Linked DNA regions of Homo sapiens: region 2 is linked to region 1. The links come from fine-mapping of genetic effects on gene expression. Tissue or cell type: lung. Region 1 holds a variant in brackets; the other region holds the start of a gene. All regions are shown on one strand. Distances are from middle to middle.

Evidence for each region. PIP is the estimated chance that this variant, and not a neighbour inherited with it, causes the effect.
Region 2: it holds the start of C1orf56, and the variant in region 1 is fine-mapped to the expression of C1orf56 in lung (TOPMed, PIP 0.97).

Annotation. Positions count from the first base shown.
Region 1 is chr1:151,269,119-151,277,459 of GRCh38, forward strand. No RefSeq gene overlaps it. Among named protein-coding and RNA genes, the nearest start is that of ZNF687-AS1, 8.6 kb to the right of the region's middle. The variant A/G (reference allele first, on the strand shown) is at 4,128.
Region 2 is chr1:151,044,397-151,050,786 of GRCh38, forward strand. It overlaps C1orf56 (chromosome 1 open reading frame 56), which reads left to right and starts at 3,355. Exons shown (of 2, transcript NM_017860.5): 1 at 3,355-4,456; 2 at 6,042-6,390. The coding sequence starts at 3,452. The coding sequence ends at 6,062. BNIPL (BCL2 interacting protein like) reads left to right here. Exons shown (of 10, transcript NM_138278.4): 8 at 1,401-1,487; 9 at 1,671-1,769; 10 at 2,255-3,324. The coding sequence ends at 2,291. RefSeq lists enhancers at 3,683-3,732, 4,013-4,252.

The sequences.
Region 1 (8,341 bases):
TCTTCCTGTGCTTACTTCCTTATTCCCAAAGAATGAACTTATATGGCTATTTCTTAATTTTTCCATTTTAGCCATTATCTATACTGTTTACTATAGAATATTATAATTTAGTTTTTTTTTTGTTTTCGAGGCAGAGTTTCGCTCTTGTTGCCCAGGCTAGAGTGCAATGGCACGATCTCTGCTCACTGCAACCTCCGCCTCCTGGGTTCAAGCGATTCTCCTGCCTTAGCCTCCCAAGTAGCTGGGATTACAGGCATGTGCCACCACACCCGTCTAATTTTTTTATTTTTGGTAGAGACGGTTTCATCATCTTGGCCAGGCTGGTCTTGAACTCCTGACCTCGTGATCTACCTGCCTCGGCCTCCTGAAGTGCTGGGATTACAACGCCTGACTAATTTTTATATTTTTTTTGTAGAGACGGGGTTTCGCCAGGTTACCTAGACTGGTCGTGAGCTCAAGCAATCTGCCCACCTCAGCCTCCCAAAGTGCTGGAATTATAGGCCTGAACCACCACACCTAGCATTTTTTTTTTTTTTTTTTTTTTTGAGACGGAGTCTTGCTCTGTCACCCAGGCTGGAGTGCAGTGGCATGATCTTGGCTCACTGCAAGCTCCGCCTCCCGGGTTCACGCCATTCTCCTGCCTCAGCCTCCCGAGTAGCTGGGACTACAGGCGCCCGCCACCACGCCCGGCTAATTTTTTGGATTTTTAGTAGAGATGGGGTTTCACCGTGTTAGCCAGGATGGTCTGGATCTGACCTTGTGATCCGCCCGCCTCGGCCTCCCAAAGTGCTGGGATTACAGGCTTGAGCCACCACCTCCCAAAGTGCTGGGATTACAGGCTTGAGCCACCACGCCCGGCCCATTGTTTTTGTTTTTATTCTTTTACCATGAGAAATAGAAACCTCCTCTCATTGGTCAAATACAGTAGGTAACCTGTTAACCTCACGTGATGGCCTCCTGAGCTTGCTCCAATGTGGATTGGTTGTCCTCGACCTGCTGCAAAGTTTTAGTTCTGGCCCTTCCCTGCACCTTCACCCTGGGACTCACTTATTTCCTGGATGCCATATTTTGGTTTTCCTTTGTTTCATCCTCTGTTTTAGTAGAATTTGTCATCCAGTAGCTTTCTGAGAAAGGAGCACAGCAAGTTTATTTTTTGTGTGTCTGAAAACATCTTGGCAGAGTATAGAATTCTACATTTAAAATAATGTTTCTTTAGAATTTTGAAGGCATTGCCTCATTGTTTTCAGTTTTCTTCTTGTTTGTTTTTTCTTTTTCTCAATGTTTCAGCATCCAGAGGAATGCTTGTTGGTGTTGAGACAGGGTCTCACTTTGTCACCCAGGCTGCAATGCAGTGGCAGGAACACGGCTCAGGCTGACTGCCGCCGCTACCTCTGAGGCTCAAGCAGTCCTCTTGCCTCACTATCTCAACTGTCTAGGACTACAGGTGCATGCCACAACACCCATCTGGTTTTTGTATTTTTTGTAGAGATGGTGGTTTTTGTATTTTTTGTAGAGATGGTGTTTCACCACGTTGCCCAGGCTGGTCTGGAACTCCTGACCCTAAGTGATCTGCCCACCTCGGCCTCCCAAAGTGCTGAGATTACAGGCATGAGCCACCTTGCCCATGGCCTGTATTCTAGTTTTCAGGGTGTATTATTAAGAAACCAGGGCTGGGTGTGATAGCTCATGCTTGTAATCCCAGCACTTTGGGAGGCCAAGGCGGGAGGATAACTTGAGCCCAGGAGTTCAAGACCAGTCTGGGGAACATGGCAAGACCCCATTCCCCCACATTTTCTTAATTAAAAACAAAAAAACAAAAAAAGTTAGCTGGCTGTGGTGCAGTGCACCTATAGTTCTAGCTACTCATGAGGCTGAGGTGGGAGTATCACTTGAGCTAAGGGGTCCAGGCTGCAATGAGCAGTGATCACGTTACTGTACTCTAGCCTGGGCAACAGAGCAAGACTGTCCCAAAAAACAAACAAAAAAAGCATCCTGTTTTTGTATCATGGGTGCAATATCTTCTATTTCTTTTCTTTTTTTTTTTTTTTTTTTTTGATACAGAGTCTTTTTCTGTCACCCAGGCTGGAGTGCAGTGGCATGATCTCAGCTTACTGCAACCTCTGCCTCCGGGGTTCAAGCAATTCTCCTGCCTCAGCCTCCCGAGTAGCTGGGACTACAGGCATGTGCCACCACGCCCAGCTAATTTTTGTATTTTTAGTATAGACAGGGTTTCACCATCTTGGCCAAGTTGGTCTTGAACTCCTGTCCTCATGATCTACCTGCCTCAACCTCCCAAAGTGCTGGGATTACAGGTGTGAACCACCACGCCCAGCCAATCTTATATTTCTAAGTATAGTCATTGCAGTTTTAGGATATTTTCTTCCGGTCCCTTCATTATCTGTTACTCTCTGGGCTCCTCCTCTTTTGGCTTCTTTTATGTTGGAGGCTGCCTTCAACTCTCAGATGATCCTTGGCTGTCTGTCCCCACTTAAGAGAGAGCTGCCTGGAAACTCCATGGGTGGGGTGAGCAGAGACCGTCATATGTGGGCCTCCCTGGGAGTAAGGAGGGAGGGAGCAGCATTTGAGTTCCTGTTGGCTTCTTCTCCTGAGTCAGTCATTATCTCCAACAAGGAATTTTCCAATCTTCCTTCCCCTGCTTTCAGAGGCCCAAGGACTTTTCTGTTTTTGAGCCTTTTTGGGATCTAAGACTGATTATTTTGTTCTTTGTTGGCTCTTCACTCCCTACATTATGAGTAGAATGGAAAAATCCCCAAACTTAAGTCAGTTATCCTGCACATCTGGCTTTCTGCACATCCTGTGCAGAAATCCTGTGTCAGTTATCTGCACATCTGTATCAAACTAAATCAGTCTCTCATTTGCTGTAGTCTTCTCTTTGTCCTTGTGCTTTTTCATGTCTTATTATTTATTTATTTATTTGTTTATTTATTTATTTTTGAGACGGAGTCTCGCTCTGTCACCCAGGCTGGAGTGCAGTGGTACGATCTCGGCTCACTGCAAGCTCCGCCTCCCGGGTTCACGCTATTCTCCTGCCTCAGCCTCTTGAGTAGCTGGGACTACAGGCGCCTGCCACCACGCCTGGCTAATTTTTTGTATTTTTAGTAGAGACGGGGTTTCACTGTGTTAGCCAGGATGGTCTCGATCTCCTGACCTCATGATCCACCCGCCTCGGCCTCCCAAAGTGCTGGGATTACAGGCATGAGCCACCGCGCCCGGCTATTTTTTATTTTTCAGACAGGGTCACTTTTTTGCCCAGGCTGCAGCGCAGTTGGGCCATCATGGCTCACTGCAGTCTTGGCCTCCCAGGCTCAGGTGATCCTCCTACCTTAGCCTCCCCAGTAGCTGGGACTACAGGCACGTGCCACCATGCCTGCCCTTTTTCACTTCTTTACTCTTATTTTGACGTGATTTCTAGGGTGAGCAGAGATAAGCTCAATTCACCACATATAACCAGAAGCTCTTTACTTCTTTAAGATCAATTACCTAATTCCTCTAACTCACAAGGTGGTCGTGAAAATTAAAGGTGGCGGGCAACCCGCTTGGGTCCCCTACTGTAGAAGCTTTGTTCTTTCGCTCTTTGCAATAAATCTTGCTGCTGCTCACTCTTTGGGTCCACACTGCCTTTATGAGGTGTAACACTCACCACGAAGGTCTGCAGCTTCACTCCTGAAGCCAGCGAGACCACGAACCCACCGGGAGGAACGAACAACTCCAGATGCGCCGCCTTAAGAGCTGTAACACTCACCGCGAAGGTCCGTGGCCTCACTCCTGAGCCCCCAAGACCACGAACCCACCAGAAGGAAGAAACTCCAAACACATCCGAACATCAGAAGGAACAAACTCTGGACACGCTGACTTTAAGAACTGTAACACTCACCGCGAAGGTCTGCGGCTTCATTCTTGAAGTCAGTGAGACCAAGAACCCACCAATTCCGGACACAATGCCATTCTCCTGCCTCAGCCTCCCGAGTAGCTGGGACTACAGGTGGCCGCCACCACGCCTGGCTAATTTTTTGTATTTTTAGTAGAGACAGGGTTTCACTGTGTTAGCCAGGATGATCTCCATCTCCTGACCTCGTGATCCGCCCGCCTTGGCCTCCCAAAGTGCT[A/G]GGATTACAGACGTGAGCCACTGCGCCCAGCCCAGCTTAGCTTTTTAACAGCTTAGTTCTTTCATCTTTGTTTGAATACAAAGGCCAAGGAAAATAGTCTACATGTTATTTTCAGGAAAATTTTCTGTATAAATTATTGTTATTGAAGCATTAATTTTCTATTTCATGATCAGGTTACATGCCTTGGAAAGGATGTAGTATATGATGAAATTGCCCAAATCATTTGAATGATAATAAAAGTTTAAAAAAAAAAAAGAAAAAAATTAAAGGTGGCTGTGTGTAACAAGATGTTGAAAGGTTTTCCTGGTTGTGTTGGAGTTTGAGCTGAGTCTTAAGGACAGAAGTGTACACAGGTACCCCCACATTGTAGAAAAATACTTTTCCAGCCACGCAAAAGACAGCACAATTCCTCCAGCTCCCATGGCCCCCACTGCCACCTGCAGCCTCTATGAGATGACACATTTGACACAGGAAAGAGAGCACGCTCATGGAGATAGATCTGTTGTTGATTGCTGATCTCTCTGGAGTCCTTTGGTATTCCCTGTTTCTTGTTCTTTAGGGGCGAGGGGAGGACGCAGACCAAGGTAGGACAGTACCAAGAGACTGGGAGTGCCTGTAAGAAACAGATGGGCATCTGAGTCCTTGGCTGGATGTTTCCTGGGTGGCAGAACTCCTGACCCAGTGTTGTCAAAGACCACAAGCAAGTCACTGAGAGAGAGTTCTGGAAGAGCCTGACATGAATTTACTGGTATTTGGGAGATATAAATGAACATAGAGACCAATGTCTGCTGAATGGGACATGTGGGAGGTTGGCTGGAGCCCAGACCTGGAATGGTGGCACTAGTGGGTAGACTTTATTTCAGCACCTGGCATGCTAAGAATGTGGGAGTTTCCCACGGACCAAGAGGAAAGCATGGAAAGTACCCAAGCTTGAGCCATCCAGATAGAGCCTGCCCAAAAGGAGTTCCTGAAGGGCAAGAAGAGCCCAATGGTAAGATGCCATGGGGCAAAAGTGCAGGGCACTGTGCAAGAGGTCACCTGGAGAGTGCACTGCAGATGCCAGAGAAAAGGGCAGTGGAGAGGTCCTGTAAGTCTCCCAGGGACCTTCAAATATGCTCCACCCAAGAGAAAGCGAGCATTTAGGAACCTGTCACACAGAGGGCTCTGACAGCCCCTGTCATGTAAAACTTGACTCCTTTCCTTCCTCGCACCATCCCAACTCTGGAGAAGCCAGAGGCAGGAAGGGAAGGGAGGGTGAAAGAAGAGCAACAGGCCGCGTGCGGTGGCTCATGCCTGTAATCCCAACACTTTGGGAGGCCGAGGCGGGCAGATCATCTGAGGTCAGGAGTTTGAGACCAGCCTGGCCAACATGGTGAAACTGTCTCTACTAAACATATAAAAATTAGCCAGGCGTGGTGGCGGGCGCCTGTAATCCCAGCTACTGGGGAGGCTGAGGCAGGAGAATTGCTTGAACCTGGGAAGCGGAGGTTGCACTGAGCTGAGATCACACCATTGCACTCCAACGTGGGCAACAAGAGTGAAACTCCATCGCTAAATAAATAAATAAATAAATAAATATAAAAATAGGGTAGATGTGGTGGCTCATCTCTACCAATAATAAAAAAATTAGCTGGGCGTGGTGGTGCATGCCTGTAGTCCCAGCTATTCGGGAGGCTGAAGTGGGAGGATCACATGAGCCCAGGAGCTCAAGGCTGCAGTAAGCCGAGATTGTACCACTGCGCTCCAGCCTGGGTAGCAGAGTGAGACCCTCTCTCAAAAAAAAAAAGCCAGGCATGGTGGCTCACGCCTGTAATCCCGGCACTTTGGGTGGCCGAGGTAGGCAGATCACGAGGTCAGGAGTTCGAGACCAGCCTGGCCAGTATGGTAAACTCCGTCTCTACTAAAAACACACATAAAAAATTAGCCGGGTGTGGTAGTGGGCACCTGTAATCCCAGCTACTCGGGAGGCTGAGGCAGGAGAATCGCTTGAACCTGAGAGGTGGAGGTTGCAGTGAGCTGAGACTGTGCCATTGCACTCCAGCCTGGGTGACAGAGCGAGACTCAGTCTCAAAAAAAAATTATAATAATAATCAAGAATGAGGATAGGAGTAGTATAGGACAGAGTGGGGTGAGGCAGAAGATGGCTGCAACAAGGAGAGGTGGTGGGTGCTATTAACAGAAGGTGCCGCGCCATTAATCTGGGGGTATGTGTGTCTGTGTGTGCATCTCCAAAGATTCCTCCTACTAGCCAGGCGCAGTGGCTCACATCTGTAGCCCCAGCTACTTGGGAGGCTGAGGTGGGTGGATCGCTTGAGCCCAGGAAGTTGAGGCTGCAGTGAGCCGTGATTGCACCACTGTACTCCAGCCTGGGTGACAGAGCAAGACCTTGTTTAGAAAAAAAAAAAAAAAGTGTGTGTGAGTGTGTGTGCATATATCTATCTATCTATCTATCTATATATATATATATATATATATATATATGCACACACACACATTCCTCTTACTCTTTCCTAGGCAATGGTTACCACAATTCTGCTACTATCACCATTGATTTACTTTGCCTGCTCTTGAACTTTATTTATTATTTATTTTTATTTTATTTTATTTTTTTGAGACAGAGTCTTGCTCTGTCGCCCAGGCTGGAGTGCAGTGGCATGATCTCGGCTCACTGCAACTTCTGCCACCTGGATTCAAGCGATTCTCCTGCCTCAGCCTCCCAAGTAGCTGAGATTACAGGTGCGTGCCACCACGCCTGGCTAATTTTTGTTTTGTTTCAGGATCTTGGCCAGGCTGGTCTTGAACTTCTGACCTCGTGATCCACCTGTCTCAGCCTCCCAAAGTGCTGGGATTACAGGTGTGAGCCACCACGCCCAGCTTGAACTTTATATAAATGGAATCATACTATATATTTATAGTATATATATACATAAATAGAATCCTACTCTCTATGTGAAGTTCAAGAATTTTTTCTTTTTTTTTTTTTTTTTTGAATCGGAGTGTCACTCTTGTTGCCCAGGCTGCAGTGCAATGGCACAATCTTGGCTCACCACAACCTCTGCCTCCCGGGTTCAAGCGATTCTCCTACCTCAGCCTCCCGAGTAGCTGGGATTACAGGCATGCACCACTAAGCCTGGCTAATTTTGGTATTTTTAGTAGAGACAGAATTTCTCCATGTTGGTCAGGCTGGTCTTGAACTCCTGATCTCAGGTGATCCACCAGCCTTGGCCTCCCAAAATGCTGGGATTACAGGAGTGAGCCACTGCACCCGGCCCATTCCTGCTGATTTAAATATCCAGGTAAATGAATCTTCCAGGCCACTGGCCTCTCAGTCTCTTGATCTCCCCTCCTAGTCCATTCCTCTCTCCTGAATGCCTATTTCCTATCTTTTTGCTCCTCAAATTCCTAGTTTCTTCTTCATCCTCACTCTTAGAGAGTGATCTTGATTTTTTATTCCCACGAAGAGTTTGACAACACATGTTCTTGTTTCTTATACCACTGGACAACAGAAGCAACAAAGAGATATCCCACAGCTCCCCAGCTCCCTCGACCCATGCCCGCTCACTCTGCCTTCTCTCCCAATTATTATTCGGGAACTGTCCCTGCCCCTGTGTAAGGCAATTCCTCTGTTTGTGAACTTGACCCTCTCGCTCACCTTCTGAAGAACATGACTCCAGAAACTTTCCCTATCGCTCTGCTACAACTTCGGTTTTTCCTGTCTACAGGATCCTCCCCACCCGTGTACTGACATACAACTTCTTCATCTTCAAACAGTCCTTTCCTTGGGTCAGTAGAACCTGATGAGAAAAAAATGTAACCATTAAAAGAAATAGTCCTCTTGGTCACTCTTTTTCCTCTAGTTACCATCTTTTTTCTCCTTCCTTCCTTTGAAAGAGTTTTATAGTGACTTTTCTTTTTTCCTCCTCCATTCTTGTAAACCCATTCCATGAAGGCTTTTGTCCCCACCAGTCCATCAACTCTCTCCTCATCATGATCACCAGTGACCTCCATTTTGCCTTAATCCATTGGTCAATTCTCAGGTTTCATCCTATTTGATATTTTAGTGGCATCTGACTATCATTCTCTCTTCCTCTTTCTTGAGATACTTTTTAAATTTAGCTTGAAGGTTACAACACTCTCCTGGTTCCTTCCTTCCTCTTTGCTGTTCTTCTCATCTCCTTGACCTTTTAACTTCGGAGTTTCCCATGCCTCAATCC
Region 2 (6,390 bases), 230 kb before region 1:
CTCTCAGTCTTGCCATTTATTTCCCTTTCCACACCTCCATTATCTTCTTCTCTGCCTTCATCACTGACCTATGTGTCTTCTCTGTCACCAGGCTGCAGTGCAGTGGTAAGATCTTGGCTCGCTGCAGCCTCTCCCTCCCTGGCTCAAGCCATCCTCCCACCTCAGCCTTCCAAGTAGCTGGGAGTACAGGCATGCGCCACCACCATGCCTAGCTAATTTTTGTATTTTTGTTGTTGTTGTTAGAGACAGGGTTTTGCCATGTTTCTCAGGCCAGTCTTGAACTCCTGAGCTCAGGTGATCTGCCTGCTTTGGCCTCCCAAAGTGCTGGGATTACAGGTGTGAGCCACTGTGCCTGGCCCTGTGTCTTCTTTTCCTTCTCAGGTTTTTTTTTTTTCCCCTTTTGGTTCCCCCATCTCCATTTGCTCACATTTCTCTTCTTGCCCCCTTTCCTTTTTTCGTCCTTGCTGGTCTTCTTCCACCTAGAGTTTTATAAGTAATCTTGGTCATGGAGCGATGTAGAAGCATGCAAAAGGAACTTACGCGAGGGTAGAGCACAAGATGGAAATGGAGCAGAAAAAGACCAGGTGGTCGGGCGCGGTGGCTCACGTCTGTAATCCCAGCACTTTGGAAGGCCGAGGTGGGCGGATCACAAGGTCAGGAGTTCAAGACCAGCCTGGCCAACATGGTGACAAGTCATTATCTCTACTAAAAAAATACAAAAATTAGCTGGGCATGGTGGCATGTGCCTATAATCCCAGCTACTCGGGAGGCTGAGGCAGGAGAATCACTTGAACCCGGGAGGTGGAGGGTTGCAGTGAGCCGAGATCGAGCCACTGACTCCAGCCTGGCGACAGAGTGAGATTCCATCTCAAAAAAAAAAAAAAAAAAAAAAAATCCGGGCGCGATGGCTCACACCTGTAATCCCAGCACTTTGGGAGGCCGAGGCGGGCAGATCACGAGGTCAGGAGATCGAGACCATGGTGAAACCCCGTCTCTACTAAAAATACAAAAAATTAGCCGGGCACGGTGGCGGGCGCCTGTAGTCCCAGCTACTCAGGAGGCTGAGGCAGGAGAATGGCATGAACCCGGGAAGCAGAGCTTACAGGGAGCTGAGATAGTGCCACTACACTCCAGCCCAGGCGACAGAGTGAGACTCCGTCTCAAAAAAAAAAAAAAAAAAAAATCTTGAGAGTTTTTTTAAAAATGAGGATCATGGAGGGCTAAATAAGATGGGTGGAGCTGAGATTACAGCTGACGGAATGGGGATTAGACCCAAGTACCAGATAAATCTAGAAACTAGAGAAGTGAATGAAGGAAGTTACAGTACAGAAAACAGTTCCACGTGATCTTCACACATAAAGGTGGAAGAAGAAATAGGATGATCTCATGTTGTTTTTCAGGCTACGGAAAAACCTGCGAGCCCTGGTGGTTGTCCATGCTACATGGTATGTGAAAGCATTTCTGGCACTGCTTCGGCCCTTCATCAGGTACTAGTTCTAGGAACAAGGACTCCTTTCTCCTTCCCCCCATTTTCAAAATCAAGATTAAGATCTTTCTCCACCTTGATTCTTTCTAGCCTTAACCACTCTACTTCTACATTTTTCTTTGCAAGGATTTTTGGGAACCCTTCTCCCAATACAAAACACAGTTGATTTATTCTCTCTTTTCAGTTCCAAATTCACACGAAAAATCCGTTTTCTGGACAGCCTGGGGGAGCTGGCCCAACTCATATCCCTGGATCAAGTCCACATCCCTGAAGCTGTCAGACAGTGAGTTTCACACTTAAGAATAAAGCCTTGGGGTGGGATGTGTAAAGCCAATCTCTACTTTTTTAATGCCTTGGGGGACATACAAAAGAACGAAAAGCTAGAGGGCCCTGTTTTCGGGTGCTTTAATGTATATGGGGAAACTGCACACACCCAGAGAAGAAATGAAGGACACTACTGCATCCAACAAGAATAAATGAAAAAAAAAAAAAACCTATACATATAAGTGCAGAGGCAATAAGGAATAAAGGAATAATCACAGTGCAGAGGAGATTCAGACTGGCCCTAGAAATTAGGAAGAGATGTGTTGGCAGTGAACAGATGATATCCAGTGGGGGAGAGGGTGTTAGGGAGCAAAAGTGCTAAATGATGACTCAACCCAATCATCTAGCTCTTCCAATTCACCTGGCTTCTCTCCCCAAACCAGAAAATAAAACCCAAGTCCTACCCCCTGAACCACTTCTCTCCTCCCCCTCTCCCTCTCCTAGGCTGGACCGGGATCTCCATGGCTCAGGAGGGACATAGCACAGGACTGGATAAAAGGCCTTAGAACCAGTTAGTGATCTGCCTACACCTGAATCCCTGAAACATCTGAACTGTTTTGTAAATCATCTTATCCCCAACCTCAGTACCACCGGATCTTCACTTCTCAGTGGGATTTTGTCCTTTGCATGACCCTACTTTCAGCAGGGCTTTGAGGCTGGGAAACTGATCTGCTGGGTGACTTTCATTCCAGTTGCTGGGACGGAAGGCTGAATGTAGGGTCATTTTGTATGGGATATGCAGAGCTCTGGGTTTTTTTGTTTTTTGTTTTTTGAGACGGAGTCTCGCTCTGTCGCCAGGCTGGAGTGCAGTGGTGCGATCTCGGCTCACTGCAACCTCCGCCTCCCGGTTCAAGCCATTCTTCTGCCTCAGCCTCAGCGAGTAGCTGAGACTACCGGCGCACGCCACCACGCCCAGCTAATTGTTTTGTATTTTTAGTAGAGACGGGGTTTCACCATGTTGGCCAGGATGGTCTCGATCTCTTGACCTCGTGATCTGCCCGCCTCGGCCTCCCAAAGTGCCGAGATTACAGGTGTGAGCCACCGCGCTCGGCCAGAGCTCTGGGTTTTAATCCTACTTTAGCTGTAGAACCTTGGGCAAATAACTTCATCTTTTTGGGTCCTAATTTTCCTCCTGTCTAACTGGAGGGACTGTGATCCTTCCACCTTGGATGGAAGAGGCTTACCTGACAGCCAGCCTGCCTGCTGGGAGCCAGGAGAGTCAGCTCATTAAATCTTGAAGAACCGCTGTATGCCCTTTTTCCTTCTAAGTCATGTCTGCTGCCTGTGAGCCTGGGAAGGAGTGCTTTCAAAACCTGTATTTTTGCCCTCTTTAGTAAATTTAGAACTGTAGAGGCTAATAAACTGCGATGAGACATTTAAGCTCTGCTCCAAAGAAGTGAACGACTCTTTCACCACCCCTTGCATCCCAAACCTTCGGTTCTGGCAGAGTTCTTGCCGCAGAGGTTCCTTAGGAGCACCCCGCGCGGCCCGCGCGAGCGCGCCTGCGCGTCGAACCCCACCCCCTTCCCCGCGGGCCTCGGTTCAAACGACCCGGTGGGTCTACAGCGGAAGGGAGGGAGCGAAGGTAGGAGGCAGGGCTTGCCTCACTGGCCACCCTCCCAACCCCAAGAGCCCAGCCCCATGGTCCCCGCCGCCGGCGCGCTGCTGTGGGTCCTGCTGCTGAATCTGGGTCCCCGGGCGGCGGGGGCCCAAGGCCTGACCCAGACTCCGACCGAAATGCAGCGGGTCAGTTTACGCTTTGGGGGCCCCATGACCCGCAGCTACCGGAGCACCGCCCGGACTGGTCTTCCCCGGAAGACAAGGATAATCCTAGAGGACGAGAATGATGCCATGGCCGACGCCGACCGCCTGGCTGGACCAGCGGCTGCCGAGCTCTTGGCCGCCACGGTGTCCACCGGCTTTAGCCGGTCGTCCGCCATTAACGAGGAGGATGGGTCTTCAGAAGAGGGGGTTGTGATTAATGCCGGAAAGGATAGCACCAGCAGAGAGCTTCCCAGTGCGACTCCCAATACAGCGGGGAGTTCCAGCACGAGGTTTATAGCCAATAGTCAGGAGCCTGAAATCAGGCTGACTTCAAGCCTGCCGCGCTCCCCCGGGAGGTCTACTGAGGACCTGCCAGGCTCGCAGGCCACCCTGAGCCAGTGGTCCACACCTGGGTCTACCCCGAGCCGGTGGCCGTCACCCTCACCCACAGCCATGCCATCTCCTGAGGATCTGCGGCTGGTGCTGATGCCCTGGGGCCCGTGGCACTGCCACTGCAAGTCGGGCACCATGAGCCGGAGCCGGTCTGGGAAGCTGCACGGCCTTTCCGGGCGCCTTCGAGTTGGGGCGCTGAGCCAGCTCCGCACGGAGCACAAGCCTTGCACCTATCAACAATGTCCCTGCAACCGACTTCGGGAAGAGTGCCCCCTGGACACAAGTCTCTGTACTGACACCAACTGTGCCTCTCAGAGCACCACCAGTACCAGGACCACCACTACCCCCTTCCCCACCATCCACCTCAGAAGCAGTCCCAGCCTGCCACCCGCCAGCCCCTGCCCAGCCCTGGCTTTTTGGAAACGGGTCAGGATTGGCCTGGAGGATATTTGGAATAGCCTCTCTTCAGTGTTCACAGAGATGCAACCAGTAAGTGTTTGGTGATGAGCCAGGGTCTTTGTTGACGGATCTGAAAAGTCCTGGTATCTAAAACCCAGTTGCTAAGCCAGCCAGTGTTGCTTACATGAACTGTTACTGACTTACCTGGTTATTGATTCATAACATGCATTGGTTATTCACATTGTTAGCCATTGATTCCACCTATTATTTATTGAGCAACTACTGGTTGGTCATTAGGTAAAATGTCTTACTGCTCATTAGGTGATTATTGACCAAATAGTTAAGATTGGAAATATTTTTTTTTTTCAAGACAAGAGTTTCACTCTTATTGCCGAGGCTGGAGTGCAATGGCGTGATCCTGGCTCACTGCAACCTCTGCCTCCCAGGTTCAAACAATTCTCCTGCCTCAGCCTCTTGAGTAGCTGGGATTACAGGCACCCACCACCATGCCCGGCTAATTTTTTTTTTTTTTTTAGAAGAGACAGCATTTTACCATGTTGGCCAGGCTGGTCTAGAACTCCTGACCTCAAGTGATCCACCCGCCTCGGCCTCCCAAAGTGCTGGGATTATAGGCATGAGCCACCATGCCTGGTCTTGGAAATTCTCTGTTTTTTTCACAGACAAGATCTCGCTATGTTGCCCAGGCTGGTCTTAAACTCCTGGGCTCAAGCAATTCTCCTGCCTCAGCCTTCCAAAGTGCTGGGATTACAGGCATGAGCTACTGTGCCCCTGACCATAAGACTTTTTTTTCGAGACAGGGTCTCTCATCACTCAGGCTGGAGTGTGGTGGCGCAGTCACAACTCACTGCACCCTCCATCTTCTGGGCTCAAGCAATCCTCCCACCTTAGCCTGCTGAATAGCTGGGACTACAGACGTGCACCACCATGCCTGGCTAACAAGATCTCGCTATGTTGCCCAGGCTGGTCTCCAACTCCTGAGCTCAAGGATCTGCCCACCTTGGCCTTCCAGAATTCTGGGATTACAGACATGAGCCACTGTGCCCGGCCCATAAAGTCTTTTTGATGCACAGATAATTAACAGATATGAAGGATCTTAATCAATTAATAGTTTTGACCTAATACAGCTTAACAGCAACAAGTGCCAAAATTTGAGGTCTTACTATGTGCACTTTACCTGAATCGATCCTCACATCCTATGAGGTATTATTATCCCTGCTTTTCAGATGAAGAAACTGAGGTTTACAAAGCTAGTAAGTGGCAGAGCCACGAGATTTAAACCAGGTTTGACACCAGTGCCCACTCTCTTCACCACTACCATTTGGGAGTACTGTCCTTCCAGGACAAGGAAGGATAGTCCTCTGCTTTTCCCAGAATTAGCAAAGGTTCTGATTGACTTGATAAGGTAGTCTCAATTGATACGGATGATAGGACTTTGAGGAGGGAAAGGTAATAAAGCTTACACTTGGTCATTTTGCTTGTTTCTGTTTTTCTCCTTGTGTGTCCAATACCATTATTGCATACAAAAATAAGTAAGGGGTGGGCAGTAGGGTTGAGGGAATATGGGTTTGTGGGAGGGGGAGATGAAGCAAGGAAGGGAAAAGAATATAGATGTGGTTGTAATTTCCCTTTTTCTCTATTTTTTTTTCTTACGCAGATAGACAGAAACCAGAGGTAATGGCCACTTCATCCACATGAGGAGATGTCAGTATCTCAACCTCTCTTGCCCTTTCAATCCTAGCACCCACTAGATATTTTTAGTACAGAAAAACAAAACTGGAAAACACATTGTTTGGTCTTGTGTTTCTTTACAGAGGTACCTGAGGGAGGAGAGACATAAATCCCTTCATCCCTAAGACTGAACTATGTAACTAGCAGCCTCTGGCTTGTTTTCTACTCCCTGTCCCTCAGGATAAAATGTTGATATTGCTCATTTTCCTCATTTCCAACATTGTTTTAAAACAAGTACTTCTTTTACAGGCTTGAAAAATCTCAAATAAACGCTA